2 linked regions of the Homo sapiens genome follow. The protein of the gene in region 1 interacts with the protein of each later gene in a biochemical or structural test. Each region holds a gene or a part of one and is shown on either strand. Other genes may lie near its edges.

What was found.
Region 2: the proteins of MYT1L (region 1) and TGFBR1 form a complex in vitro, tested with the Homo sapiens proteins (one study listed by BioGRID).

What each region holds. Positions count from the first base shown.
Region 1 is NC_000002.12:2,324,957-2,342,738, reverse strand, and holds the start of MYT1L (myelin transcription factor 1-like protein), read left to right. Parts: upstream 1-11,463; 5' UTR 11,464-11,772; intron 11,773-15,630; exon of another isoform or gene 15,631-17,782. UniProt on the Homo sapiens protein: Transcription factor that plays a key role in neuronal differentiation by specifically repressing expression of non-neuronal genes during neuron differentiation.
Region 2 is NC_000009.12:99,129,826-99,144,875, forward strand, and holds part of TGFBR1 (TGF-beta receptor type-1 isoform 1 precursor), read left to right. Parts: intron 1-2,671; coding exon of another isoform or gene 2,672-2,683; coding exon 2,684-2,914; intron 2,915-8,033; coding exon 8,034-8,264; intron 8,265-12,710; coding exon 12,711-12,878; intron 12,879-14,906; coding exon 14,907-15,050. UniProt on the Homo sapiens protein: Transmembrane serine/threonine kinase forming with the TGF-beta type II serine/threonine kinase receptor, TGFBR2, the non-promiscuous receptor for the TGF-beta cytokines TGFB1, TGFB2 and TGFB3.

The sequences.
Region 1 (17,782 bases):
CAGTTTTCTAAACTATAACGTAGATCATCTCTAAGGTAGCCTTTTCACTTCTAATTTCCTATAATTCTAACATCTGCTTGTGTTTTTATTATAAGTGAATTTGGAAAATGAGATTCCAATTCTACAAACTAAAGTAGATTGTCTGCATTAGGCAACTATTTAAGATAAATTTAAAGAGAGAGGTTCCAAACACCACTTCTCATGGCCTCCATAAAATAACATGGGAATTCAACTCCAGCCTTTGAAATTCTTTTCAGATGAGGGTGAAAGTAGGTTCAAGGAAAAACAGCACAGCTCATGAATGCATACATTCAGAAATAGTGCAGAAGAAGCATGTCTCAGGCACCCTGGTATAAAACTTGCCATCAATCACAGAATGTTGTCAGGAGAGGCCTCTGAAATTTACATTGGTAAAAGATCTAAAAGCCAATACAATATATGTTGTTGTCCACACTGGACTTTCAGAAAGGTTAGGGAATGAATAGCAGAGCAAGTCAAACAGAAACACAGGTCCAGAGCCCTGGGGAATGGACAGGCTTCCTAGGAAGGGCCTGTGGCAGTTATAGGACAGACAGGCCAACCCCGGAGATCCAGGGAAATGTGAGGCAGGAAGAGCAGATGTAGAATAAACAGCATTGACTGAGTTCCCAAACTCCAAAGCTGCAGAATATCCCATGCCTTTCTTTTTGTTACATACAACTAAAGGAATCTAAGTAGAACACAAGTTACAAGATTATACAGTAACAACCAGATGACAATTGAAGCAGGCAGAAGGGAAGGATCCACAAAGACATTCTTAAGGGCGGGGACAAGAGTCCAAGCACGTGTCCCAGTGTTGAGCAAACATTCATGTATTCAGTCAGTCAATGAATATTTATTAATATTTATGTCTATGTGTGAAAATGTGCTGGATCTTTGGTTATCGACAGTATTTCACATTGCCCCATAGGGTATTTCTATGGTTTCTGTAGACAGGGGGAAGTCCAGCAGACCTATCCCAGTGTGAAACTAGAGGAGAAATCTGGCAGTTTCTATCCGAGAATTCAATATGGTAGTCACCAGTGAAGTGTGGCAATTGAACCCTTGAAACGCTGCTGGTACAAATTCTGATGGGGTTTAAGTGCAGAACACACACCAGATTGTTTTTAAAAATGTAAAATAGGCCAGGCACAGTGGCTCACACCTGTAATCCCAATGCTTTGGGAGGCCAAGGCAGGCAGATCACGAGGTCAGGATCTCAGACCAGCCTGGCCAACATAGTGAAACCCCGTCTCTACTAAAAATACAAAACTTAGCGTGGCATGTTGGCACGTGCCTGTAATCCCAGCTACTCAGGTGGCCGAGGCAGGAGAATCACTTGAACCTGGGAAGTGGAGGTTGTGGTGAGCCAAGATTGCGCCATTGCACTCCAGCCTGGGCAACAGAGTGAGACTCCATCTCAAAAAAAAAGGCTGGGCACCATGGCTCACGCCTGTAATCCCAGCACGTTGGGAGGCTGAGGCGGGCGGATCACCTGAAGTCAGGAGTTCAAGACCAGCCTGGCCAACATGGAGAAACCCCATCTCTACTCAAAATACAAAATTAGCCGGGCATGGTGGTGCATGCCCGTAATCCCAGCTACTAAGGAGGCTGAGGCAGGAGAATCACTTGAACCCAGGAGGCGGGGGTTGCGGTGAGCAGAAATTGTGCCAGTGCACTCCAGCCTGGGCAACAAGAGCAAAACTCCTTCTCAAAAAAAAAGTAAAATATCTCATTAATAAATTGGATGCTGATTAACAATATTCTATGTGTATTAAGTAAAATGAATTATCAAAGCTTATTTCACCTGTTTCTGTTTCAAAATATGTAGCTATTAGAATAAATTTAATTAAACCTGAGGCTTAAAGTATATATCTTTTGGAAGGCACTGATCCAGTCCAGTGTTTCTCAAACTTTACTGTGCGTACAGTTCACAGAAGAGTTAGGTTAAAGGCAGATCCTACGTCAGTGGGTCCGAGAGGGGCCCAAGATGCTGCGTTTTCAACAAGCTCTCAGGAGACACCCATGGCTCCTACATCTATCACAAGAATAAGATGAAATAGAAGACAAAGGCCTTTCAGTCCATAATTGGGAAAGAGAACACCTGCTGTGTAGTGTATTAAAAGAAAAACAGGAATTGTCCTTTATTACAAATGAATAAGACCACACATCAAAGAAACATTGTTAAGATATTTCTCCTTGCAAAGTTTCTTCCAGCTTGATATCACAAAAGGGTTGGTAACTAACTATGCCATAAAGTTTGTGGGGTTTTTTAGCCTACTTACTTGTTTCATTTCTGATAGGATTTGGACTGTGGTGCAATTTATTTTGTTTCTGGAGTCTAGAGGATTTTGCATTTGCAGCTGAGAGAGAAACAAGTTTTGGAGCCAGAACTCATCGGATTTGTGCGGAGCAGGGCCACTCCACACAAAGGCTCAGAAGATGGTAATGAATGAACAAGACCACTTCTCAGAAAGCAAACAGGCCAGGGTTTGGGGTGAAGGGTGGCAGCAGATCCATGATGAGAGGTAGAAAAGGAGAAACTGTGCCGGAGCTTGGGCTCTTACCTTGAAAGACCCAGGGTTTAGGTATCTGTGTGTGTGTGTGCCTTTGTATTCTGTGTCTGTGTGTTGTATCAGTGAAAGCTCTGAGATATAAACAAAGGAAACCAACAGGCTCCTTTCAGCAGAAAAGGCCATTTATTAACAAGATACTGGCATCTTGCCGAATGCTCAGGAGTGGAAGATGAGGACAGAGGGCTGAGGCCATTTCTAATGTCCAGGCCGCTGAGGGGGTTCCCTCAGAACAGCTCCAGCGCCTCCTCCATTCTTGCACTCACCGGAGAAGCCTTCTCCACCTGCCCAGGCTCTCAGGGTGTGACCTTCCTCTGTGAAGCATCAACATGGAGTAAGTGTCTGCTATTTTCATCCCATGCTGCCCCACATCAGCACACATCCCTAAAAAGCACTTATGCATCTTAACTCAATCCTCTCCTGAACGAGATCATTCCCCCAGTTCTTAGAAAGGAATGGCTTGATTCTCTGTGCTCAGCTCCCAGTCCAGGATTCCTAGCTTGTGCCCACTTCTTCTCTATTCTGCTACAATTCCATGTCAACATGCTTCATACTATAGGCCACTATCACCTTAAAATGACAGGGGAAAGAGAGAAAAGCAGAAAATTAATTCAGTTATATAAAGATGTACATGACCCAGGAAGGAAGATAAATGCAGTTAAATATTCTAAGCCTTTTGTCTACAAGGTGAGCATGAGCATCTTCCTGGCTCTGTCCCAGGCTCTCTGCATCCAGCCGGCTCCTCAGCTGGTCAGAGGTGCTCACCTTGTAGGATGGCGTCTGCAGTGAGAGAGATGAGTTCTCAGTGTTGGAAGCTCTAGTCTTCCTTTGGCTGTTATGACTGAACCTGGCATTATTGAAAGATGCCCCAAGAATCTTCTTTTTGCTTTCAGGTTAGTCATTAGTCCACCAAGATGCCATATTTAAGATGAAAAAATGAGGGGCTTTCAGTTCATGGCCCTGAAGTTAGAGCGGGGCCCTCCCCGTGTAGCGACCCCTGTATTCCTTTGATAATCTGGGTCAATCCCTTTACTGAACACCTAACCCCTATGCAACCTGCTCCCACAGTAGCCTGAGCCTCCAAAAAGAGGAAACCAGGAGTGGAAGGCAACGCTTCTTGCCTTTCTGTTTAGAAACATAACCTGGCCATTCCCCAAACAATCAGATTCCAGTAACTTTATAAGGTGCAGACCCCTATATTTTTGTTGAATTCACTTTCTGATCTCTAGCAGGTCTCTATTTTGTCAAGAAATGTAGCGTGAACACTGGCCCCTGTTCTCCAGGTTCTTGCAGTGTTCTATCATTGCTGTAGTGGGGCCACCCTTATGTCCTCTGGGCAGAGAGAAATTGTATTTTCTGCAAAGATAAAGAATTAATATAACCTAGGATAGGACAGTGAAGATGTGTTGTTGTTCCTAAAATAGGAAGAAATACTAATCTTGGTCTAATCCTTTCATTGGGATAACATCCATTTCCTTGTGGTTGGAGCTATGAGGATTTGCTGGAGTAGAGAAGCTACATTTGGAACTTCGTCCTCTATCAGCTCACCACGGTTCTCCAGAATCCCGTCTTCTGTGCTAGCCCCACCAAAGAATGAAAGACCAGCATGCCTTCCGTTATCACCACTGGCAACTTTACAGCTATCATTTCCCCAGCAATGTCACAGTACTTGTTACATATGTAACAAACCTGCACGTTGTGCACATGTACCCTAAAACTTAAAGTATAATAATAATAAAATTATTATTTCGATTTACTATTTTGATAGTCCATTTATTAGGGATCCAGGGAGGGGATTCTGCTGGCTATTGAAAATATCTTTTTTTTATTATTATACTGTAAGTTTTAGGGTACATGTGCACAACGTGCAGGTTTGTTACATATGTATACATGTGCCATGTTGTTGTGCTGTACCCATTAACTCATCATTTAACATTAGGTATATCTCCTAATGCTATCCCTCCTCCCTCCCCCCACCCCACAACAAGCCCCGGTGTGTGATGTTCCCCTTCCTGTGTCCATGTGTTCTCATTGTTCAATTCCCACCTATGAGTGAGAACATGCGGTGTTTGGTTTTTTGTCCTTGCGATAGTTTTCTGAGAATGATGGTTTCCAGCTTCATCCATGTCCCTACAAAGGACATGAACTCATCATTTTTTATGGCTGCATAGTATTCCATGGTGTATATGTGCCACGTTTTCTTAATCCAGTCTATCATTGTATGTCACTGTGTCTGGAGTGCAGTGACATGATCATAGCTCCCTGCAGCCTTGAACTCTTGGGCTCCAGTGATACACCTATCTCAGCTTCCTGAGTAGCTAGGACTACATGTGGGCACCACTACACCCAGCTTATTGAATATATGGTTTTCATCTCTGCCCATAGGAATTTTGGGGAAATGAAGGGAGGGTTTAAGGCCCCACTGAGCATGCATCACCAGCCTCACTCCCTGTACATCTCTCTCAAGTGGACCACTTGGTATTCTGGGTTCCCAGAAGTTGAGGCAAGCCAAAGTCCAATGAAGCCCATGAGTTAGGGGCATTTCTGTTTTCAAATACAGAATTACTCTGACAAACGGCTGTAGGGCCATCTGGGAAAGGACATTTATGTTCACGATGTTACTGCAAGATCATTCTTTAAAGGCATGTCTTCATTTTAGATATCCTGAGTCTAGAAGCCAACTTATTTCCGAGATTGGGTGAGGATCCTCAAATCTTTATGGTAGGACTCAGGTCCGACACCTGTGCACAGATACCAAATTTCTTCAGTTCCGTAAATCAAGTAGGAACTTTGTAGAACACCCATCTATTTCAGCAAATTATTCCATACGGTCAGGGCTGGCCATTTAATTGGTTTTCTACCATGTATCATGAGCTGACAAATTCCTGTCTTATGAGATGTTTTCTACCAGGAAAGATAACAAAACTGCTGTTTCTCAGAGATTGAGTTGTCTGCATTCTTAGTAAACACATGTGCCTCATTTCGTGTACTTAGTTACAAGTAAATATTCTGACTGAATTAAGCACACAAGTCAGATCTACTAGGATGGTTGAAATCTCAAACTTGGAGATTAGCACATTAGTGATAATATCTAAAAGTATATAGCACAGCTGGTTTTCTCAGGATGCTGCTACAACCACCATAAACCCTACACACTGCCACTCTTTCTCAATTATACTGCACAACCACCATTGCCATAGGAGAATCTTTAAGGAATATGGTTTTCTGTGGGATCAACACACAATTCAAAATCTAAATTGGGCATGTCATAATGGTGAATCGTAGGCCATGTGTCCATGTCTTTGCTGAAAGAGAAGTTGGAAAAATAAATAGCTTGTTATTTTAGTATCTAGAGTGAGAGGCAGTCCCTACCTACTAAGGAGGCTCAAATATTGGGGAGGGTTGGGATGTAGGAAGGAGGTTCCAATGCTGGAAATTCAGAAAGAGTGAAACAATTACTACAGTGTGGACCGGGCTGTACATCTTTCTCCTTTTGTTGAACCCCATCGTCTTCTCTGCCTCCATGTTTTTTTCTAGATTCTCTTTTCTGAATGATTTTCAGCACCAAAACTCTTCTAAATGAGCATGATAATTATTACTGTTTTCTGTACAGTGAAGAAAAATATAATTTTGAATAAAGTAAGTGGCTTTTTTTTTTAACTTCAGGGATGAGACCCATAAGCTAATTATAAAAATAAATAAAAATATTCTTATTGAGAACCTGATTTAGACCAGCACTATTCCTATGTACTCATAAGCTAAAAGGCATAAGTCCCTTTCTTCAAATAGCTTGAATCATTGCAGATACTAACCTGATAGCACAAAGAAATGAAATGCGATATAAAAACCCCAGATGCAAAATAGTTCAGAGACTGAGTCTCAAGGGTGTGCAGGTAATGTGGAAAGTTTTGTTGCAATATGCGTATTTTTGAATTTATTGGGCCACTGAGGGTGAAATGAAAGGTATTTACTTTCACAAAATTGCAGACATTTTATAAAATTATAGACTTTGAGTAGAATAAATACCTTCTATAGATTATCTTAGTTTGCTGGTTATAATAATCTAAACCAGCAGTACCCAACCTTTTTGGCATCAGGGACTGGTTTCATTCATGGAAGACAATTTTTCCACAGAACGTGTCGGGGTGGGGAGGTGTTTCACCTCAGATCATCAGGCATTAGATTTTCATAAGGAGCACACAACCTAGATCCCTCACACACACAGTTCACTATAGGGATCACACTCTCATGAGAGTCTAATGTCGCCACTGACTTGTCGGAGCTCAGGCAATAATGCTCACTTCCCCACCATTCACCTCCTGTGGTGCGGCCCAGTCCCTAAGAGACATGGACTGGGGTTGGGCACCCCTTACCTACATCTTAAATTCTCAATGCTCTTTTAGATCTCAGAATTATATTTCATATTTATATCTATATATTTTGCCAATAAATAACCAGTTCTATAAAATCAGGCCAAGTGATCTGAATACAGATGTTTTCAACTCTACCTGCTCCAGACTCCCCTAATATGGGTTTATACTGAATAGAATGGTCAGCCTGGGATAGCTGCAAAAATAACGCATGAGCTCTGAGGTTCATGGTCTACCCCTTGTGGTCCAGTCATTTCACCGAGATTACACAACCAAATTCTATCTGACCACAACTATTCTTGATACCTCAGCTCTTCTTCATGATATGTCTCCTAAATTTCTTTCTCATTATTCTATTTAGCAAATTAACCACCAACACCTTATTTCTTTTATCTATTTGCTATTGAGTCACTCTATAGATGTTTTGATTAGTTGAAGCTAATTCCCTGTAATGAAAATGGGTTCCCCATCCTTATCATTGATAAATTAATAAACCACCCCCTCTCTGATATATAGCTAACTTGGAAAGTTGTTCCCCAATACAGTGGCGGAGGGCTATGTTAGTGCCTGATTTTGCATAGTGTACACTCTGATATAGTAATATCTGGATTCCAGGTTTTACCAATTTACTACCCAACTATAGCAATTCTATGCTGTTTGCTCCAGACCTAAATTAATCTCAGACTCCCTTTAGATGTCACAGCTCTCCATCACTGGTGCAGACATAATTCTGAAGAAAAGGTCATGAAGTCATCGTCATGCTTTCCATGAAGGTCTAGTTCCCGGCTCCTCACCTGGTGTGCAACATGGCACCTGAAGAAACGTCACGGCTCCTTTTTGTTTCTGGTCTCATGATGAGACCAGAGTCCAGAGAACAGAAAGGAAAGAGATTGAACTTTCTATACTATGAGAGATCAATCTATCGTTTGTTAAAGTGATCAGCATATGTATCCTACAGTTGGAAATACATCCTAGGTTATAACTTGTGTGTATTTCCACACAAAAAATTATATGGGCTTTTTTTCTTTGTACTAAATTGGAGGACATACCCATTAGAAGTGGCAATATGTTCCAATTTCTTTTCTCTTACAAATAAATAAATACATACATAAATAAACAAAATTAATGACATATGTATTTCCTAATACCAAGGGCTTTAACATGTGGAATAAACTAATACATGAAGTACAAAATATATTAGAAATAATTTAAGGAGGCAGGTGACAGATACTTAGAGACAAAACATTTGGTTATACGGTTTAATCGCAAACTACAGATTTTTAATCTAAATGGTCATTTGAGTATTCCCCAGTTCTTCTACATCATAAAGGATTTTATGGTACCTTACTGCAGAGTACTCGATATCATTTTTGAAGAAATCATACTGTATCAAGTGAGCTACAATGTAACTGCAAAATGCAGACTGCAGTGTTGCTCTGCTGTGGCTCTGTGGCTTCATGATTCATTCATTTTTCCTCTTCTCTTGAGCCATTTGAGGGCTGGTATCTCAGCTCTAAAAGTCATGCAGAGAATGGGTGGAAAGAATACAAATGCTTCACTGGAGCCCGATTCAGGCTGGGGCAGTTGTTGTCAACACGATGAGGTTGAATGAAATGCAGTGACAGTGTGGTAAGGGAAGACGTGTTCTTTAATGCTGCTGGGTCCAGGGATGCCTTACCTTAAGGGTAAAACATTAGATACTATGCTTATCAACACAGCAGCCTGTCATTGCAGTGAGTTACACCTACAGCTTAAGGTAACCAAAGCTGTTGAAAGAATATTGTGCCTGCGTGTGTGTGTGCAGGTGCCCCATATCAAATATACATTCTGTTTTCATAGACATGCACAAATGTGTAAGAAAAACATATACATGTATAAATCTGTGATTTAAAATATTGTGTCAGTATTATTTACAGATTTCTTTCTTCTTAATGTAAGGTAAGGTATGTGGGGGTGAATTTTAACTAAGAATTTATTATTAACACAACTATGATAAACTCATAGGGAATGATTACATGAATATGTGTGTATATATGTGTGTGTACATACATATATATTCATTTAATTTGAACTTTATTTTTTTAAGTACATTTGGAATTCCTTGGAAGTAATAATATAATGTATATGTAAACGCCTAAATAATACCCAGGAGGTCACGATTTGACCTAAACACTCGCATTTGCGTGGGAATTTTATTGTGCTCACTTTTTTTTTAGAGGAATGCTTTGTCCTTTACAAAATGGACAAATACTCCCACTGTACTGCAGTTCCAGTTCTATAATCATTTTGGAGGCGCTCTTTACCCCGTGGTGACCACAACACGAAGAACCGTCCTTACCCACATGCTGCTTGCCTGGGGAGCTCAGGATCAGTGTCTTACACACAGAAGGATATATGCTCCCATTTTTTTTCCGCCGACTGTAAATGACTCCTATTCTTTGCTCCACAGAACATCCGATGTGGTGCCCAATCAGCTGAAAAAGCTGCACAGACGTCATTAGTTCCGTGTGTGTGTGTGTGTGTGTGTGTGCAAGAGAGAGAGAGAAAGAGAGAGAGGAGACTGCAGCTGCCTTGCCGCGTGCCGAGTGGAGTCTCCATTAGGGCAGCGCTATTGATTTCTGATTCACACTGCAGCAACAGGGCTAGAGCTCAGAAGAAAAAAAAATCACGTCTCAGAAACAGGAATTACAAAGACAAAAATAAGTAGATAGATAGTTTTATACAAAAATCAAGCATCTGTTACCAAAGGAAAGCAAAACTGACAATTTAGCAAAATTTAAAGACTGTTTATAACATAGAATAAGATGTATAGGAGAAGTAGAGTAAAATGAGTTTAGAAAAATTATTCGTTCTAATTTTTCAACCATTTTTTTGAGAGGTGATAATGGTCTAATTTCCAGAATGCCTTGAAAAACCCTGGAATACTCGGCAGAGGTGCTGCAAAGTAAAGCTTATTTGAGGGCAATCTTGAAGCTATGCCTGAGAATTTTAAACAACAAAATATCCAAGATTTATTTTTTCAATTGTGTTCGATTATTTTATTAGCTAGTAGCTTTCTCTGTTTTAATTCTCTGTGTTGCATAATATCTAGGATACAGTAACAGGCTGGTTGCAAATGCTCGAAACAGAAATAGGTTTCTTCATAGGCTGTGTTTCAGCATGTCCAACTGTGAGCCTGTGAAGCAGAGCATCGGAGTTCTCTCGAGGTCTGTTGCTTCAGATTTGGTTAGAAATTATTGAATCTGGAGTGTAAAAATCTTGTCTGGGCCTTTTAGGCAGCTTGATTTTAAAACTAGCCCTTCTGCCCCAAGACTTATCAACCGCCCCCCCACCCTGTCCCAAAAGAAAAGCTGAAGTAAGTTCAGTGTTAAAATAATGGTGCTGTCAGGCAGGCAGTCTGCATGTGAGCAGCAGAAAATTAGAAGAATAGAACCATCCATTCTCGTTTCCCCCCGCGACATGCACGCACACATACGTGCACACACACACACACACCACACACACACACACAGACAACACCAGTCAGTGAAGGGGGAAAAGGGTGATACCTTTTTAAAAAATGAAAGGCAGTAAGCCATTATTAGCAAGAGCTATATTGAGCATGCTTGCCAGACAAGCAGCAAAGCTGAGCTCCAGTTCCGCCCAGACATGTGCCTTGCCATTTTCATTTTAATCAGCCTGCTCAGGATGGCTGCTGATTCATTTTGCAGGATGTCCCCCTGGGAGCCAAGGTGGAAGCCTGAGGCGAGCTGCTATTGCATCAATGCAGCACATCAGAGCGAGAGCGCGGAGGCAGAGGGAGGAGAGAAAGCCTTCAGCACCGCATCCCGATTTCAATATGGCTAGTTAGAAGGTCCTGCATGAAACCGAGTCTATTGCAGAAAACATAATGAAAGGAAAGGAAAAGAAAAAAGTCACATTGTCATTTCATTATCCAACTATTCTCTCCCCCAACCCCTTCTTGCCACCAACAGACACACACACGTACACATTTTACAGTGACCATGAAAGATTTCAAGCCACTCTGTGGAAGTGTGTGTGTGTGTGTGTGTGTGTGTGTGTGTGTGTACTATTTACCTGGTAACTAGCTGGGGTGGTATACCTGATTTAGCTGGAGACTTTGATTTGTAGGACTGACAACCTTATTATGCAGTGAGTTTATTATTGATATTATTCTGCTCTCGGTTGCCATGGCCACCTTGTGAGAGACATTCAATTTTCTCTCTTCCATCATCATTATCTATGAGGCCATCTGTTGTGGAAAATGAATTCAGCCTCATTTGCATGACTGATAAGCAATTTTTTTTTTTATCTATTTAACAGAAGGTCATATGCCGGGGATTTGGAGCTTGTGAAAAAAAAATGTGGAAAAAAAAAAAAGCCTAGGAGAGGATGAGTGGGAGCGTGTGCATGGGGGTGTGTGGAAGTCAAACAGATCCCTGAGGCCTGCGAGCCTATCGCGCTGCATTTGTCATTCCTGCCCGGGCGACATTTTTTTTTTCCCTAAGCTACTGCACACTAAACAGTGAGAGAGCTTTTCCCTGCAGTCTTGTTGAAGCACCCCGGGTTTTTTGCTCATTGTTGGTGGGTGCATTTTAATTTTTTCATTCCCTGGACTATGGGTTATGATATCCATACTCACTGAAGACAAAAAGCCACCTTTTCTGCGTCTTGGTGGCATGCATGTGTCTCATCATCCTTTCAAACTTGTGGTGGAACAGGGTTTTCTTCCCTGTCTGTGTATTTTGAGCCAGCACAGTTACCAAAATTGAACTTGTCTTTCGCTTGTGAGCGGTTGTGGTCATTGTGAGGTACGTGATGTTCGTTAGGTTAATTTTTCGGGGAACTTAGTGAGCAGGATGTGTTTTACCGTAGCTCAAGGGCTGAGGCTGCTATTCCATTGTCTGCTCCTTTTTAAAGTTATTTTTACAGCATGGCTGGTAGCTGAAATGTTCCTGGACTGGAGGCTTTGTAATCCACAAAAAAATCTGTCTTTAAACTAAAATGGGTATTAGGTTGCATGACTTAACTGTGATGTTGTTTATTAAGAAAAAAAGAAACAAAAACAAAACGGGGTGCATGTATGGTGTTTGGAGGATAAGAGGATACTGAAACAAAAACTTCCCAGAGACTTTACTGGATTACTTTACATTACAAATGAAGCACATCATTTTATGCAAAGGCAATTAAAATGTTAGCTATTTTGGATGAATTTACCTGATGGTAAGAAGAAAGTTGATTTATATTGTTTAAGTGGAGAAACTCAAATAAAGATTTTTAAATTTAACTTAAATGTTTGAAGTTCATAATAATGAAAGAAAATGTTATTTATAACAGAAATATGTCTTTTTGTAACACCTAAATTAATAAACTAAAAGATTAAACTCTACACTTTAGTTTTAAGATAGATCTGAATAAAGCAAAAATATATATGTAAATATTTATATGAAAGTTAGCTATATAAAATATAGAGAACAGATTTTGAATTTAGTATTAACCATGACAATTTCTTGTACCATCAAAGCTATATAAGCTAAATAATTTCTAAGTTACTTAGAGTAAAACTATTTTATATAAGAGCCTTTTTGTTCAAATGTTTATATTTTCTACTAAACAAAATTAACGTCATAGACCAAAGCATCCCAAAACCACCCTTACTGGCATATGAGGGTCTTTCTAATTGTTCATCTTCATTTAGTGTCATGTAGCTTTAAAAATAATAAAGTCATGTCTCCCATACAGATAAAAATGTAATTATTTTTAAAAGAAAAGAGTTTTATAAAATATTCCTTTTCAAAAAAAAAAACAGCATTGCATTCCTATAAGTTTTCACCTCTCAAGAACTTTGAATCCAAAGTGTTGATTGTAAGTTATAAATGCTACTAAGAGAAACATTCCAGAAAAAAAGGAAGTTTGTTTTTTCTGATTGACCTAAAAGAACATGTATGATTCTATCACCTCAAATGCAGTAAGTTAATTGCTTAAAAGTCTCCTTAAAGTTATACTTGAGTGATAAATTTTCTTTATTAACTAACATAGACCACTACTGATGTGTGTGTGTGATGGTACTTTACTTGATTGCACTTTGAAAACTCTTACCATACTATCATACACTTTTCATAAACAATAACAGTTGTTATATAATCCTTCTGCTTTTAATCAGCCATATTTCTTTATATTTTAGCTTGATTTTCAGAGAAATAAGTTTATTTTAAATATTAATTGTGCATTTAAAGAATTTAAAACAATAAAATTCTGATAGATTATGAAGATTATTTAAAGTGACATCAGCTTTCTCAGAGGACTATAAGAATCAGTAATATGAGATCTGGATCTATATTATAATATGAAGGATTATGTTGTTGTCTTTTGATCTGTACATATAGTCTTCAGATTCGTGAATCAAAATTATCAACATCTAAAAAAACCTATGAGATAGCACAGTTGATTTTTCTCTCCTCCCCACCCCCACCCACAAAAAGTTAATTACCAATCTTGGTTGGATTCTTCCTTGCCTCCCTGACATTTGACTGCTGCTAATTCACTGATTAATCTCATTAATGTGATTATAGTAGGATTTAGAGTTGGCTGCCATTGTTCTGTAGACAGTGCTATTCAGGCTGAGCACTTGCCACCTCATTCAGTTTTGCTGTGATTTTTCAAAGGCTGGTGGAGTGAGCTATTGTGAGCAGGCTTCTCTGCCTTCCCTTTCAGCACCAGGAGCTGTCCGCAGCTGATAGCGATTGCATTCAACAGTGACTGACTTCCTCCTAGTTTATTGGCAATGTGAAAATGGCTCACTTTCATCACCTTAATGATTGTGCTAGTTGAGGTAGAAGTAGGAGAAGCCTTCATGGTCACATTTGGATGTTTTGAAGATGGTGGCAGCAAAGATATCTATACTTGAACATTTTTATTTAGTAAAGACTTTCCATCTGCCATTATACACATATTTTACTCTATTTCCAAATATTCAAACATATCAATATGTTAAAAATTACTTGTATATATGTATAGTTGTGGGTTGGAAAATTGTAAACATTATTACTTTTCAACTGGAAAATTTTATCCAAATACATGTAATTATTAATAAAATTCATCTTTGAAAAGATGCACCAGGACTATCTGGTGTCACAGTAAGGTAGAAAGTATGCATGACACACAAATTTCAACTTCTCTTGAGTTAAACTTGCATCCAACAGCAGAACTTATGCCAATTTCACAAATTTGTGTTAGAAGCTGAGATCAAGGTAAAGGCCCAATGATTTGTGACCACATATGAGTGGTGTACAAAAATTATTAAAGGAATATGAGTACCTAGTCTTCTTCGGGGTTATAAAAGCTGTCAAAGCATGACCTTAGGACTATGTGGATAGTTTCAGAGAATGAGACTTCTTTAATATGCTGTTTTCACTGTCCCTGTTATGTTTTTCACCTAATTTATTTATTTATTTTTTACTCTCTTGAAAATGTTTCTATTTTGTACCTTACTCTTGAATATACCCAATTATTTCACTGTCTGATGTTTTCTGTCTGCTTTCTGTGTCAATGTTTAATAGATTAGGGAAAAGAAATAAGTGATTATGCAATTTCAAAGATTTGTAAAGTTTTTCTATTTGTTACAATTATACTTAAAATTAAAAAATTGAGTTAATAATCTGATTATTTGTTCAGCTGCTTTTATAAATACTTTACATTTATAATTTTTAAAAGCCAATTACTTCTCTGTGAAAAATTAATTTTGTCAAGTAAATAATGTTTTCAAAGTCACATGCATAAACTAGATTTCCAACTCTACCTGTAAGCCAATTTAATTTGAGGGAGAGACATTATTTTAGAAATACATAATATACAATCTGAAAGACTTTGTTTACTTGTTATATATTTTAGTGGATACATTTTAACTTCAAACAACTTAAAGGTTTATTTACCCTTAAATATTTTATATTAAAAAAAACTCCTCTGTGGAATTAGAGGGACTAGTCAGATGCTCTTTGATAATGACCACTCTGCTTTGCACTTACAGTTTGGTTTGGCTGGGTGTCCCTTTTAGACCAGGGCTATAATTTTCAATCAATAACCAGTGTTTCCAATGCATGTTGTCCTTTGCCAGGAAGTCTACCTTGATGCAAAGTCTCACCAGAACTCTGTTCAGGAGGCAAATGAATGGTAGACTCAGAAAGAGAGATCTACAGTTTTGGTAAATTTTTATAATCTAATTACTCCATAGCGTAATTTGAGCGCAATGATGTTATGCATTTTCCTATTTCAAGTTTTTAAGAGTTCTTTTTTTGAATATCTTCTTTTTTATTTGAAAAGTTGTGTAGTATTCTTTAGAAAGGAGTAACTGAGGATAAACTTGAACAAAAACTTGCAAATAACATATTTTTCACCAAGCTAAGTTTCATCATACTGTATTCTGTACCACAACACAACACCTGACATTGATCTGCATTTCTTCCAAACAAAACTGAAGACAAAAGATACCACAAACTTGAAGAAGTAAATAGATGTAGGTTTGTGTTTGTGTGTGTGTGGTTGGGGGCAGTGTCATATCTACATATCATGGTTGCTGGTATGAAAAAGATATTTTAAATTGACATACCACCCCAATATTTAAAATATTGCCTATAGTGACCATAACTCATATGAAATAATACAAATATTCTACTTTTATAGTATTTTATTGCATGATTTTTTCTGATATTAGATTATTTAAAGGCAACAGCTATCCATTTTTTCCATCAGTGGGCTATTTCAATGCAATGTGGTTCTGTTTGTAATATCTTTGTGTCTTGTCTCTTCTCTCTCTTTCTCTCCACTTTCCTTTCTCTCTCTTCTGCCCCCTCTCTCTTTAACTTGGTCCCTGTTTGTCTGTTTTGCCACCCTCTCTTCTCTCTGTGTTTCTTTCACACCTGCATTGTTCAAGCATACACAGTGATTTTTCTATGCATGTTTCTACAATGGAAGTGTTTTTGGCTTTGACATCATAATGAGTCCTCAGGGTATCTGTAGAAGTAATCAGAGATGGCAGAGAAAATGTAAGCCAGGTGTTATAAAACTAGAAAGAATGCATGAATGCTTATTTATTAGATAGAGAAAGAGTGATAAGCATTGCTGTATTAGGCTGTTCTGCTAGGAAAATTTTCCTACCATGTACCTCTTTTAAAATAATCTCTGCTCCCCACGTGGTGATTATTGGAAAAGTTGGCGGGGGGGAATATTTTAGTCTTACTGTAAGGAGTATTGTGTTGTGAGAAGATGGAATGGTACAGGACATTCTCTTAAAGCTTTCCTTGCTTTCAGACTGCAGTGGTGTCTAGCAGGGCTCGATGGGAAGGGAATTGCAGCCTCTATAGTAACCAGTAAGTCTGGTCCCAACACATCAGGGAAGAGCTCGGTCTTCAGAGGAATTACCTCTGAGAGCTGGAAGAGGGTGTTCCTGGTAACTTGGGGCTTCTCTGTCAGTCTCCCCACGGAAACCACAGTCAGAGCTGTGCTCTGTGGAAAGCCTGCAGTGGCTGCTCCCTCGTGCTGTTCTGCTCTCGACTCTCACTCACTGTGGATAGTGGGCTGGTGGAGTGCGGGCGCCAGAGGGTAGGGGTGAATGGAATGGAAACACAGAGGGAACTGTGACCAGCACGTGCGATGGTCTCTCCACGGCAGACAGAGCCCTGCGTGGGTGAGAAGCAGACTGCGGAACAGGATTTGGCTTGATGGCCACCAGCTCTTCCACAAAAAGGTACCTCTTTCCTTTTATTGTAAAGGTTACATAGGATTTCTTTTTTTCTTAATTTGCCTGGTGGTTGCAGCTCCCAGTTCTTCTCTTAAGTACTTCAAAAATAGTTGTTTCTCCACCTGCCTGCCTATCTCCAGCTCTCATTTGATTGCATACACAACACTTCCTAAAGTCTCTTGGTTAGGCGTGTGAACGCGCCAACAATGGACCCTCTCTCAAAAGAGCTTCTCCTTCAGTGTAATGCCATTGTGGGCACTGCTATGTCTGCATGCTGCCCGGAGTTGTTGTTAAACATGAGTCTGTGTATTCAAGGCTAGTTTCCTGGGGCGAGGGTGGGAGGTGCTAAAGTAGCCTTTATGATTTAACGTAGCCTTTCATAGCGGTGAGTGTTATAGGAGAGAGGTTTGCAGAGAGTGAAACGGTATGGTCACCACCAGAGTAAAACATCTGTGGCTTGACTCAAGAAGCCATTTATAAAATCAGCACTTTTTTAAGCCAGAAAAAAATGCTAATGAACATCAGGTATCTATGTTCCCTTAGCTATTTTAAAAACCATATTAGGACTTGTCTTTTCAAAGAAAACTTTTTCTATATTTTTTTCTTCAAACAATAATAAAAGGTGAAAAATGTTTTAACTTTCTTAGACAAGTAGTTTCATAGCTTTTGTTTTAAAAGAAAACGATGCAAGAAGCTCATACTGAAACAGAATAATATAGTGAGGTTGGCAACCCGAAAACGATTTTAAGAATTGGTTAGAGTTAACTCTTGTGTCACCATTCTTTTATTTTAAGAAGTGACAGGTTTTGGAACCTCTTTTTGTTTTGCTTGGATGTTAACCAGCAATGCCATCTAAAATACTGTAGGTTCAGCTTACTTCTGTGAGGTTTCTTTGGCCACAGCATGAATTTACCATAACATCAATGATACGAGAGATATTTTTAGATATATTGCCTAGCTGGTAGCTGCTAACAGCCTGACTCCGGTATTTACAGTTCTCATCTATTACATTAAATACAGCACTGCTCATGATACACATTCTGCTCTAGAGATTTAGGGGCCTGTGGGTACAAGGCAAGCAGCAT
Region 2 (15,050 bases), on another chromosome or scaffold:
GAGGCAGAGGTTGCAGTGAGCCAAGATTGTGCCACTGCACTCCAGCCTGGGTGACAGAGTGAGGCTCTGTCTAAAAAAAAAAGATAATAAATAAATAAATAAAATTTCCTGGCAGAACCAGCAGTTTGAAGACTTCATAAACTTTTTAATTTTAAGATTCCGGTTTAATATGGAAGTCTGAGCACATGTATTTAACTCTTACCTCTTTCCCCAGATCCCAAAGGAATATAAAAATGAGGGCAACCTGTATTAATGCTAGTGGGATTAATGGTAGAATGCCACCCACATGCCAGCACTTGTGAGGAACTTCTGCAATTTACAGTACAGATGACACCAGACTAGTAAAGAATTGACTAGCCATATAAGAAAGGTTAGTCATCGAAAAGTCCAGCCAATAACTTAGACAAAGGATTTGGGGGGTGAGGTTAGGGTATGGGGGCAAACTCTCAGTTCCCTTTTAGGAAGCACCTGGCTTCAGTGCTCAGAGGAGCAGACACAGTTGCTCACTCTCCACTCAAAGTTGGTCCAGGCCTTGTGCTAATTAAAGGAGGAAGCACTGCTGTAGCGCAGAAGGAAAAGGCCAGTCCTCCACCTGTTCAGCATGATAATGCAGCTCCCCTGTGGTAAGGGTTGGTCGGACTACAATATCTTTGTGACTTTGATGAAAGCATCTGCAGTTATAATGTGGCAAAGAAAAGGATAATTCCAGAATTTCCCATTTCCATCATTTGAGCTTGAAATATCTGAATAGATATTTACAAAACCTTGTGAAGAAGTCACCTTATTTCTCATGTTTCTAATGAACATATATAAACTTCTCATTTCCAGCTCTAGGATAAGCAAACAGCAAAAAATTACCAATGAAAAGTTAGGAGTTCAAAAGAAGTAGTCTGAACTAGATAGATTAGATGTCATCCTGTGAAATAGGTTTACCACATGATAGGGAAGAACTTTCAAACAGTACAGGGTCTATTTTCAGTTATTCACTATGAAATGAGAACATTTCACAGTTGTTAAAGGTTGCTTTCAGAAGAAAAGCCCAACTGATGAATGTTTTTAAAAATGCACTATTGAGAGCGAACAACAGACTGGATGCCATAATTTTATAGTCAAGTTTGGGACAAGTTTTAAGAAACTGTGTTACAATTCAGAGAAAAGACAGTTGGTGAGCATATTAAGAGATATAGGGAACAGATTTAGATGATCCAATATGCTTATTATCAGAATTCCAGAAAAAGGCATGAAATCATAAAGAAGACAGAATACCAGGCAAAATTAATGAAAAAATATTAATCCAAACACATATAATAAAAAGTATCAATTTCAAGAATAAAAGAATTATATAAGCATTTAACACACATAAACATTGGTTACCTGTAAAAGGTGAAAAAAAAAAACAGGTTCAGATTTTCTGCTTAAATATCAAAGGGCAAATGGAACATTTTTACGATCACCTAAAATTCTTGAAATAGGCCAAGATTTTTCATATACAAAGGCAACAGCCTTCTTGCCACAACTAAGTTCAGTGTACAAGGGTGCATGGACTCTTCCTGAAAGAAATTACTAGAAATAGGATTCTGTATGATAAGAGATTAATCTACTGAAGATCTTAAGAATGGGAAAGATGTGATATGAAAGAAATGGTGGTAAGCAGTAAACCAGTAAGACTCAGGATGAATGTCAAAATAATTGTAATTTTCTGAAACAACCAGAAAATCTTAATTATTAATAGAAGTTACAAGAAAATGATCTGGACTTAAAAGTCCAGGAGGTTAAGATAGTATAAAAAGTATATATATGCAAACTCTGTTAAAAAAAAAAAGTAAAAGATATGTTCTGCCTTTAAAAAATTGGTGGACCTATTGGCCGGGCATGGCTCATGCCTGTAATCCCAGCACTTTGGGAAGCCAAGGTAGGTGGATCACTTGAGGTTAGGGGTTCGAGACCAGCCTGAGCAACATGGTGAAACCCCGTCTCTATTAAGATACAAAAATTAGCCAGGTGTGGTGGCACATGCCTGTAATCCCAGCTACTTGGGAGGCTCAGGCAGGAGAATCGCTTGAACCCGGGAGGCGGAGGTTGCAGTGAGCCAACATCATACCACTGTACTCCAGCCTGGGCAACAAGAGTGAAAATCCATCTCAAAAAAAAAAAAAATTGGTGGAGAGATATATACTGAAATGTGAGTTGTTTAGAAGTGATGAAGATGTATGTGGTTTTTTTTTTCGCTTGTTTTGATATTTTGTTGTTTTTTTTGTTGTTGTTTTTCTTGCTATGAGCATGTACTGGCCTTGGAACAAGAAGACAAGCCAAACATTAAAAAAAATATGATTTTTAAGGAGATGTTAATAGGTATTGTTACAGGTTATTGGTATTAGTGACCTGATGTGATAAGTGGGGAAGGTCCTATGATATTGGCGGCAGTTGGCCTTGTAATGATGGCTGAAGAATACAGGAGTAAGTGGGTGCTGACAGAGCTGGTGTGCATAAAAGGAGGCCTAGTGGGAGAAGACTGATTCACTTGTTCTGGGTTTGAGCCCTGTAAACTGCTGTAATGAGGCTCTTTGGCTAAGTGGTGGCAGTGGCCAGCTGCAGGAATTGTGTAGGATTGGGAAAATGGGGGTTGCCACCTACAGTGTTTTTGTCGTTGTTGATGTTTATTTCACTCGAGGCCCTTTTTCAGTAAAGTCATCACCTGGCCTTGGTCCTGTGGAACTGGCAGCTGTCATTGCTGGACCAGTGTGCTTCGTCTGCATCTCACTCATGTTGATGGTCTATATCTGCCACAACCGCACTGTCATTCACCATCGAGTGCCAAATGAAGAGGACCCTTCATTAGATCGCCCTTTTATTTCAGAGGGTACTACGTTGAAAGACTTAATTTATGATATGACAACGTCAGGTTCTGGCTCAGGTAACATAATTGTTTCTCCTTTTTCCTAAGACATCTTTTTAAAATTAAGCGATACTTATTTTATTAGTTTTCTAATAAGCCAACTTGCTAGAATGTGAGATAGTATAAATAATATTGCAGGTTTGAACCTAATAAAAATCTTTAAGCTTGATGTATATATGACTGTGGCTGGTTTAAAATAGATTGGAACTTAACTTTAACTGTTAAAGCGAATCAATAAGTCAGCTCCATGGTGGTATAAATTTCAAAGCGTTCTCACTTGTATAATCTAATTTGCTTTTCATCACTGTGAGGTAGAAAGGATAAGAACAATTATTCTCATATAGATGAAGCTGAAGGTCAAAGATATTCACATGATCTGCAGCTAACCCATTCTATTCAGGATTGTTTAGCAGCTTGATGTTTACATTTGAAAACAGGCATGACAGAAATGTATTCAGAATTGTGAAGGTTATTTACTTTTTAAACATTATATGAAATTGTCTTTCGTATAGGCCTGGTTTTTTAAAATTAAACTAATGAACTCTTATGTCATTTTCTCACTTGAGAAAAATGTCTAACCACCTTCTTATTTAATGTAGTTTTGGCCCCTAATGACGTTTTCTTTTCTCAGTTCTATTTGTTGATATTTGTGGCATCAGAAGTAGATGAGCTAATTGTCAGAGTCATCCCAAGGTGGATTTTGGCATAGCAGTGCTTCATGTTTAAACTGAAAGGGGGTTATCTTTTACTTTTTCTTGCATGTGGTTTGGAAAAATATTAAGAGAGGAACACTCCTATCCCCTGTGTTTTTAGAATTTGACACTTGGTGAAGAATAAATAGATCTAGGTTTCAAGGCAAGCTTTGTCATTGATTGGCTGTATAACCTTGGTTAGAACATGTTTCCTCTTTGGGCTTCTGTTTCCTCATCAAAAATATGGAACCCATACTGTTGATAAAAACACTTCAAGTGGTTTGTTAAGACTTTTAAATGAGATGTACTATCCTTTGAAAAGTATGAGTCATCTTCAAATAAGGGCTAAATTCATGAATAAAGTGAAAATTTGTAAAGCGTATATAATGAAAATTTCACTAATTTTGGTGAAAGCCCATCTCTATTAAAAATGCAAAAAAATTAGCCGGGCGTAGTGGCATGCGCCTGTAGTCCCAGCTACTCGGGAGGCCGAGACAGGAGAATCACCTGAACCTGGGGGGTGGAGGTTGCAGTTAGCTGAGATCGCACCACTGCACTCCAGCCTGGGAAACAGACTCCATCTAAAAAAAAAAAAAAAAAAAAATTTTCACTAATTTTATAATTGAGTGATATTAAAGGAATGTTAAAGCAGAAGTTGTGACTGGGTAAGAATATAATTCTGAAGCATAAAATCACATCTAATGTTGCAGAAAGCTCATATAATGACAAATGTCTATTTATTTTAAGGAAATGAATATATATTGGTATGTATGCATATCCATTCATTTAAGAATGAAGAAACTGATTTTATTACCTGAATTATTCTTCTATAGAATTTGGCCATATGTATTCAATAAGAGAGCTCTCTCCTTGACTACTAGGACACACACAGGCTCGCACTGGAGCTCACGTCCCAGAAGGCAAGCTTAGGGATTCCTGAAACAGTTGTGCAAGGAAGACAATGAGAGTTTGGACTTAGATGAAGCAGTCTTAGTACTGAAGGTGTGATAGTCTTTAGGCAGGCCTGGTGGACAGAGGTTATTTTAGAGCTTTCCTGGGACTTCCCATTTATTCTCAGTTCAGATCTTCAAAAAGATTTTGCTCATTCTGGAAGTCATCCTGCTCAAAACTGTGATAATCAAGGACCAGAGTCACAGAAAATCAGGATGGCTACAGATATTTGGAATTAATCCCTCAAACCTGTTCTCTTGTTTCTAAACTTATACTCCGGAAAGACACAGCACTCATGCCACTTGCCACAGTGGAATAAGCCCACCTAACTGATTAAAGGAATTGGTGGGTGGGTGGCAGTTGATTACTGGATAAGAATATCTTCATTAACCTTTTAAGATATAAACATGAGAAACAATGGAATAATTCTGTTTCCATTATATATATATATATATATATATATATATATATATATATATATATATATATTTCTAGATCCATGAGGGACCATAGCTCTCTGTTCTCTGAAAGCTTCTCTCCCTCCTTTGATGCCTTACCCTGCAAAAACTTGTCTGCATTGCTTGCTAGCTCTGTGGCTTTGGGCAGTTAACCAATGTCTCATGCTTGAGTTATTTCATCTTTAAAATGAAAGTGATGGATTCTGTGCACATCATTGGATTGTTGTGAGTTCAAGCAAGACAAAATGTTTGCATGAAAGCACTTGGTAAATTGTAGAGTTATGTCCAAATGACAAGTGTTACTCTTATTGAAAACATACTTGGAGGAAAAATCTAACATACAGTATCAGTTGACCACATTGTACAAAACTTAGTTTAAGGCCTCCTTTGCCTGTCATAGTTCATTGTGTACTGAATTCCCTCCAAACCTATCCAGGCAGAAGCCATCTTCTGGTGAATAATAGCAGAAAATGCCATCTGTTTCCCTTCTATTCATTATAAATCCTTAATGCCACCTTAGGCATGAGACTAGTGCCTGTGAATAAGTAAACTGTGTGTTTGTAATACTCTGTTTTTAGTTCTTTCATTAATTGAGGAAAAGGTATAAGCATTTCACATTCTGAATTCATATGTTTATTACTTAGTACCGTGACCATAATTAAGGAAAGGCCCTGTCTCTACCTCTAAAGACTGTGCTTTTAACTTGGGAACTTCAGGGAATACAATGAAGAGCTGGGTTCTGGCAGCTGTACGCCAAGTGTGTGAGTGTGCACATGTGCATATGTGCCAGCTTTTGTAAGTGAGTCTTCTAGGCCAGTGTTTGTTATGGCGTGTGCAGCTTATGAGCTCTTGTAATATATGCATGTTGTTCGGGTCTTATTTCCTGTTCACTGCATGTAAAGCTGTGGAGTCCCTGTTTCCCTTTTGAAGTTTTCTCTCAAACAGTTCTAAAGGTACAGAAGAGTAGAGCAGAGAATATAGAGATCTAAATTAGGCCTATTCAGTTTTGTCTTTAGAAGAAAATTGTTACTTTTTTTTTTTTTTTTTTTGGAGACGGAGTTTCACTCTGTTGCCCAGGCTGGAGTGCAGTGGTGGGATCTCAGCTCTCTGCAGCCTTCACCTCCCGGGTTCAAGCAATTCTCCTGCCTCAGCCTCCTGAGTAGCTGGGATTACAGGTGTGCACCACCATGCCCAGCTAATTTTTGTATATTTATTAGAGACCAGGTTTCACCATGTTGGCCAGGCTGATCTTGAACTCCTGATCTCTAGTGATCCAACCACGTCGGCCTCCTAAAGTGCTGGGATTAGAGGTGTGAGTCACTGTGCCTGGCCAATTGTTAACTTTTTAAAAATGCTCAACTATTCATGTGAAGTAATCCAATATAGATAATACAGTGGATCAAGATTTGCTTTTTAATTTTAATTGACATCTAGAATCCAGTGATAAAGGGGAAGACAAAACCTTTCCTCGTCCTGTTGGCCTTTCTTGACCATACCATTTACACAAGTCCTGAACCTGTCAGGTGTTTTCAGAATTTGTGTTTGTGATTCCTTTTTCTTTTTTATTACTTGTCTTTGCAATTTCCAGATTAGTCTCCTGAAATTAACTCTTAAGTGTACTTTTAAGTCTGTGGTGTGGCCCTCTACAAGGCTTTCATAAAATGTAATAAATTAGTATCTACACTAAACAACATAATTAGAATTGATTATACATAGTGCGAAAGAGCTCTATGATTTAAATAAGGATTTCTGACAGATCTGTTTCTAACTAGCAGCCTCCTTATAAACACAAACAGTTATTTATAGTTATACTGCTAACTACTTTACAGGAGGTGGGGAGGGTAGAGCAAGAGGAAGAAAGGACCCGTTTGAGAAACTTAAGAAGAAGAGCTTCTGATCGCTTTAAAGATTTAACGTTTGGATTTATAAGCATTTCACATCAGGGAACCAAAGAGAGCAGATAATTTCATTTACTGTCATTGGGTTAATTTGATCTAGTAAGCAGCTTTGAGTATAGATTATAAATGACACCAATTTATATGTACATAGATTGTATAAATAAGATATGAGTGAGGAACATGATGTACACTGGCATTTTCTTTGTTAGTGTCAATGTAATTTAAAATGACACTTACCGGATGGTGGATAGGATATTAAGTGATGGTCTCACATATAGTGCCACTTAAATGTTGCAGGTAAGTTAGTAAACCCTTTTAAATGAAGTAAGTATGGCAATACTTAAAAATACATATTTTGGAGAAAGCCAAGTTCCATTAGTGGAAAAACAGTGCTCCATTACCAAGGTAAGTTACTTAGCCTTGTTCTTCAAGATACTAGTGTTGTCTATGTAGCCAGTTGTCAGCAAGTAAATTGCTTTCCTTGAAATAGTTTCTGTGGTGATTTTTACTGACTTATCAAAAAGCCAGAATTTACTTCTGTGTTTCTGCGTTCACATCCTTTTTTCCTCCCATCAGTGAAACTGTTACGAGATTCATCTTTCTAAAATAAGATTTTAAAATTATCTTGCTTCCAGCCATGGCCCTTTTTCTCAGAAATCTTTAAAGGTTCCTCTTTTACCTAAAGCTCTTCATTGGTTATTTTGAGCTTGGTATTCAGTACTCTTCATCTTCTGGTGACAGCTTACTTTCTCTTTTCACTGCTTTGCCACATATATCCTCTCTCTGATTGCCCAAGCTGCTTCCCTAAAAATGTGTCATTCATTTCCCTCTACCTTTGCCTGCACATTCTTCCTGCCTAACCACCGTACTTAAGGGATAGTCAAAATTCAACTTACTTTTACAAAGCCTACCTTGACCCTCTAGCAGGAGTTTCTGGATTCTTTTATTATATTTATTATCTTATTTTCCTTTTTTAATTAGTTATTTTATTGCAAATATAATATCTCCCCAGTGAGATAAATTCCTAAAGGGATAGCTTAAAGTATCAGTTTTCTGGGTCACTCATTAGTGCCTATCATGATGTTTGAAACATGTAATATTGTTGATTGTGTTGAGTACTATTTATTTTTACCTTTAGGTTTACCATTGCTTGTTCAGAGAACAATTGCGAGAACTATTGTGTTACAAGAAAGCATTGGCAAAGGTCGATTTGGAGAAGTTTGGAGAGGAAAGTGGCGGGGAGAAGAAGTTGCTGTTAAGATATTCTCCTCTAGAGAAGAACGTTCGTGGTTCCGTGAGGCAGAGATTTATCAAACTGTAATGTTACGTCATGAAAACATCCTGGGATTTATAGCAGCAGACAATAAAGGTCTGTAACATTTGCTTTTCCTTATGTTATATATAACAAGATCTCTTTAAGTCTTTACAGATATGGTGACTAACCATCATCAAAGTAGATGAGACATAGATGTCTCTCATGTAGATTAGACCCATTAAGTCGAATACAATATATTAGTAACTTTTAGAACTAGGAACTTCTTCAAGATTTTCTTGACTCTTGATAGCATTCCTAAAATCTCTTAATGTTTTATAAAATATAAAAGAGCTATTTTAAAAAGCCATGTACTTTGTTGGTTTAGTTTAGGGCAGTTAGTTATTGAGAGTACTCATGATATAGAAAAGATATATAAACTTGCTCAAAATTTTGAGAATAGGGCTCAGATAGCTGTTTCCTTTTAATCTCTTCCTGACCAGTAGGATGTTTCAATATGGACTATTGACCTTATTAATGGGGAGAGTAAAAATAACTTGTCAGTGTTCTGAGTTGCCAAGGGCTAAATAGATGAATCTTCTGGCAAACTCAAAGAGATAAATTGTTTCTTCAACCACCCTGGTAACTGTACGGACACTTTTCTGCCTATCATGCTGGTGCCTGAGGCCCAGTGTCAGGTCAGATGCTGAAGAAGGAAGGAAGCCTGTCAGCAGGGAGTCAGAATGAGTGGGGACTGCAAGCAGTGACCTTAGACTGTGCTGCTGCCACTTTCTTAGCTTCCGTTAATACCTTTATGCCCATGATTCCTACTTTTTTTTTTTTTGAGATGGAATCTCGCTCTGTAGCCAGGCTGGAGTACAGTGGTGCAATCTCGGCTCACTGCAGCTTCTGCCTCCTGGGTTCAAGTGGTTCTCCTGCCTCAGCTTCTCGAGTAGCTGGGACTACAGGCGTGCACCACCATGCCCAGCTAATGTTTGTATTTTTAGTAGAGATGGGGTTTCACCATGTTGGCCAGGTTGGCCTCCATCTCTTGACCTCGTGATCCACCCACCTCACCCTCCCAAAGTGCTGGGATTACAGGCATGAGCCACTGTGCCCAGCCCCCACGATTCCTATTTTTACTGCCTCTGTCAGAGACTTGTGTTTCAGCTCCACTCTTGTCATCCCTACCCCTGAATCAAATGTATTTCCCAGCTTTCCTATTTAAAAAAAAAAAAAAATGCTGTCATTATCTCTTAGCTTGGCCAGACCTGTAGTCATCTTTTTCCTTCTCCCACCTTCCATTTACTTCAGCAATATTTATTTATTCAAATATTAACAGTGTTTAACCTCAGTTGGTAATTATGGGTGATTTTTATTATTTTTCTTTTAGCTTCTCTGGGTTTTCAAATTTATTTACAAGCATGTACTGCTTTTTTTTGTTATTGACTTTTATTTGTAGAAAATTTCCAATATGTAGAAAAGCAGAGTAGTTACAGTGATCCCTCATCGTCCAGCTTCAACAGTTGTCAGGTCACTGCCAATCATAATTGATGTCTGATCCCACCTACTCTGCCCTAACTGTGTTATTTGAAGCTGGTCCCAGACAATATGTTTTCATCTGTAAACACTTATAAAATGTAATTTGTATCTTCAAATGATGAGGAAATGTTTTTATGAAACAACCACACTACCATTGTCAGTTTTTTAAATGTTATCAAATATCCAGTTAGGTTCAATTCTATAATTGTCTCCTATTAAAAAAATTATTTATTCAAATTATGATTCTAAGTCCACAAGTTATATTTAGTTGATATTTCTCTTATGTGTCTTAAAATTTAGGTCCCCCCTTCATCTTTTTTCTCCTCTCGCAGCTTATTTGTTGAAGAAATTGGATTGTTTATCCTGAAGGGCCTATCACATTCTGGATTTTGCTGATTGCATTTCCATAGTGTCTCTTAACTTGTTCTTCTATCTTTTCTGAAAACTGGTAGTTAGATTTAGAAGCTAAACCTAATTGGAGTTTTATTGGTTTTCTCAAAATACATACTAAGGATATTATATACATCCTATTGCATCATATGTGGAGGTGTATAGTGTTTGATTAAGACGGGGCAGTGAGGTATATGATGAATGTAGGTAGCGATTATCAGTGGCACCTGACAATGTAATACCTCTTAAGTTAAAAACAAAACAGGCCGGGCACAGTGGCTCACGCCTGTAATCCCAGCACTTTGGGAAGCCAAGGTGGGTGGATCACGAGGTCAAGAGTTCAAGACCAGCCTGGCTGGCCAAGATGATGAAACCCCATCTCTACTAAAAATACAAAAAAATTAGCCAGGCATGATGGCAGGTGCCTATAATCCCAGCTACTTGGGAAGCTAAGGCAGAGAATTGCTTGAACCTGGGAGGTGGAGGTTGCAGTCAGAGCTGAGATCGCACCACTGCACTCCAGCCTGGGCGACACAGGGAGACTCTGTCTCAAAAAAAAAACAACAACAAAACAAAACAAAACAAAAAATAGTAATCAGTCTGACCAAATCCTTAGTTCTCATTTTCGTTTCTGCCTTTATCACCATTTATTTCCTCCCCCAACTCTTAAAACAACCTTTTCTTTATTTACTGTGTTTGATGACCCTAGACTTTCCTTGTTCCTTCTTACTTCTTCATAGTTGTCTTTGTTTTCTCAACTCTTACTCTTCTCACTGGTTCATATGAAGGTACTGATTTTATAAGTGGTAATTTCTTCCTTAAGAACATAGCCACATTCATGGTTTCAAACTCTACCATGTTGGCAACTCTCAAATCTCCATTTGAAAGCTTAAACCTCACCCAGGGTCTGGATTTTGTCACATTCCAAGTTACAAACACAGCAGCACAAAATGTTGGTGAGTCTGTGCCCTGAACTTCTAACCAGGCTGATGCTGTCATCTGGTGGTCACCATGGGAACTAGCTGACCCTACTGGCTCTTCCCTACTCCCCTTCTTTCTTCTTTGTCAGGGGTTAATGTACTTTCTCTGAGCCTAGCCCCTCCACCTCAGTTCCTTTATCTTCTCCTGATTTAGTTAATTCCACCCCCGGCAGCCCTTTATATTTATGGCCCCTTACATATAACCTTCCTTCTATCTTGTCCATAACCTGTGGTTTCCCTTTCTTCCATCTGCCTGTCTTCCACTTTGTTTCTTGTATTTGTGAGCTTTTCAAAATTCAGTAATGGTTAAGAGGCATGCAAATAAGCTAGTGATGTGCCTATATCAAGGAAAAGCAAGGGTGCGAGTTTGGTCAGAATCAGTTTATAAAGTTCATGAAGAACAAATTAATACTAAGTCCTTTTAAATGTACCCAGAAATCTCCTCCAGAATCTTCTGAAAAGTTTCTATTCCTTTCTTAATCTCTTCTAATCAGAGTTGGTTTTCTTCTTCAACCAAATACCTTCAAAATAGAAGCTGTTTCATGTCAATATGGATTTTTTCTTTTGGTTTACAACCAGCAGGGAAAGAAAGAGCACAGTTTATGTACTTCTTACCTAAAGAATCTAGCATTCCGTTTTTTAAATCTTAACAGTCTTACAAAGTAAGACTTTATTCTTGTATAAAAGGAGAAACAGGCTCCTTGTCAGTAACAGGCAGGCCGTGGATTCCAACCAGGTTAGAATGACTCTAAGCGTCCATCTTTTACTGGATTGTGCTGTCTCCTAATGTTGTAATGCTTTTTTTCTTCATGGCTTAATTAAGCATGTGGTTTTCCAGCTACTTCTAGGTTAAATTAGATTGTCGTGGACCAGTCTAGCTTAGGAGCCTAGCTAGTGTCTTTACCATTATTCCTATGAGAAAACATGTTTTAAACTCGTGTTTTGGCTTACAGAGGAAATTTTGGAACCCACGTTCCTCGTTGTTTGAGTTTAGTCCCAGCTTTTCCAGTTTTGCTCCTGACATTTCAGTTCCTATTTCAGCTTCCCCATGTGTTAGAGGTATCACTATTTCTGTTTTTCTAAGCTAGCAACCTTGGAATCATAATCATCTTGTCTTGCGTCTTTGTGAACTGTGTACACAATCTGTCACTAAAGCTTGTCATTTCTTGTTGAAACTCACTTTCAGTTTTGTCCCATACTCTTCCATTCCCACTGTGGCCACACTGGTCTCCGGAGACTTCTCACCTCCTTGCTTCCCTCTCTGTTCCTTCCTTTTTTTTAACCTTCTCTCCTTCCAGGAACAGCCACTGAGCACCCAACCCGACCCAGAGATTTTTCTAGGCACTTAAGAGTGCCAGCTCTGATACCAATTATCTGTGAAGACTCAAAAAAGTCACCATCTTTGTCTCTTAAATGGGATTAATTATACTTGCCTTATCTCAAGAAGAGGGGCTTACTCTGAGGAACTAAAGGATGTGTACATAAAAGTATAAAACAAACAATGTAGAAGAAAATGTGAAGGAAATACAGACTTAAGGTGGCATTATATTGCAGTGTGTGACTCAGGATTGAGAGTAAAAAGTAATAACCATTGAACAAATAAATCATAAATGGTCTGCAGCCCAACCGAAATGTTAATTCTGTTTTACAGACAATGGTACTTGGACTCAGCTCTGGTTGGTGTCAGATTATCATGAGCATGGATCCCTTTTTGATTACTTAAACAGATACACAGTTACTGTGGAAGGAATGATAAAACTTGCTCTGTCCACGGCGAGCGGTCTTGCCCATCTTCACATGGAGATTGTTGGTACCCAAGGTAATTCTATAAGCAGTTCTATTATTTAAGCTTTAAATTTTCATGAATAATGTCTATGAAAATAGAAGGTGGAGGCTGGGCCTGGTGGCTCATGCCTATAATCCCAGCACTTTGGGAGGCTGAGGTGGGCAGATCGCCCGATCTCAGGAGTTCATGGCCAGCCTGGGCAACATGACAAAACCGCATCTCTACCAACATACAAAAAATTAGTCGGGCATGGTGGCATGCACCTGTAGTCCCAGCTACTCAGGGGGCTGAGGTAGGAGGATTACCTGAGCCTGGGAGGTCGAAGCTGCAGTGAGCAGACATCATGCCACTGCACTCCCAGCTGAGTAATAGAGAGAGACCCTGTCTCAGAAAAAAAAACAAAAACAAAAACAGTAGGTGGCCTAACTGGAGATATTTAAAACAAATTTTTTAGATGAGAACATTTTATCTTTCAGTTCAAAATTTCAGGTAGAGCTAGGAATCTGGAAATTTGTTTAGAGATTCTCTAGTCGTTGTAACAAAACTGTGATTTTTTTTGAGTTCTTAAAAGTAGCATTCAATCTTATGATTTTTGAGGATCTCAGTTTCAGAATTCAGGTCCAACTGAATATATTTTTATGTGTAGTATCAAATGAAATGTGAAAGTGCTTTGTAAACATCAACATGCTAGGTAACTGTTATCTGGCCATCTAATAATTATATTTGACCTTGAGATAAGGAGACTGCATGAGATAGTTTTACAGTTGAAAAATTAAATACTAAGTTTTAGTTATGACATTTGTATGCTGTAGTTTTTGTGCATGTGGGATTTCAGATGCCAGTATATCTCTCTGCTCTAGCAGTTGTCCACTTGCAACCCAATGGCTCCCCCACTCCCCACTTTACATACAGCATAAGTGCTAGTTCACATCTTAGCTCCATCTTTGTAGTTATTATTATTATTGATTGTAACAGTTTTATTGAGTTATAATTCACATCATAAAGTTCACCCACTTAAAGTGTAAAATTCAGTGGTTTTTAGAATACTCAGAGTTGTACAGCCAGCAAACACTACAGTCAATTTTAGAATATCTTCACTCCAAAGAGAAACCCTGTAGCCACTAGCAGTCACTCCCCTTTCCTCCCAAACTCCTTAGCCCTAGGCAACAACTGCTCCTTTTTGTCTGTAGATTTGCTTATTCTGCACATTTTATATAAATGAATCATACAATATGTGGTCTTTTGTGACTGGCTTCTTTCACTTAGCATGTTTTCAAGGTTCATTTATGTTGTAGCACGTATGAGTACTTCAGTCATTTTGATGGCTAAGTAATACTTCAGTGTATGGATATGGCATATGTCATATATCCGTTCGTTGATGGACATTTGGTTTGTTTCTTTTGGCCATTGTAGCTAATGCTGCAGTGAACATTTGTGTACAAGTTGTATGTAGTTTCATGTTTTCAGTTATCTTGGGTATATACCTAGGAGTTGAATTACTGTATCATATGATAACTCTATTTAATGGTTTGAAGAACTGCCATACTATTTTCTTAAAGTGCCTGAACCATTTTACATTCCTGCCAGCAGTGTATGAAGGTTCCAGGTTTTCCACATTATAATTATTATTTTTTAATAACATTTTCTAGTGGTTAGCATCAAAGATAATATACTTAATACTGAGTACATTGCAGTTGATAGGGAAGTGATGTTCTACATGCTTGGTTCCTGGGCTGCTGGAATATCAGTCTATGGCTAAGTTTCTTAAAAAGAATTCATAAGGCACCAACAGATAAACTGATAACTTTTTTTTTGCCCCAGTCTTTGAGTTGTTCATCTTTTAAAGCATGTTATTGTCCACATTTTCTTTAAAGAAATATAAATTCAGTGACTTTTGGTGTAGTGATTCACTTGAGTTTAATAATGCCGTAAGTATTGTAGGTCATGTGGGCTGAAATGCTTTGATAATTTGGGTTGGGAGAAGAGACTTTTGAACCTAAAGATGTGAGTTGTGATTGGTATTACCTTTTAAGCAGTCATGTTTAATTTTTGATTCTTTAGGAAAGCCAGCCATTGCTCATAGAGATTTGAAATCAAAGAATATCTTGGTAAAGAAGAATGGAACTTGCTGTATTGCAGACTTAGGACTGGCAGTAAGACATGATTCAGCCACAGATACCATTGATATTGCTCCAAACCACAGAG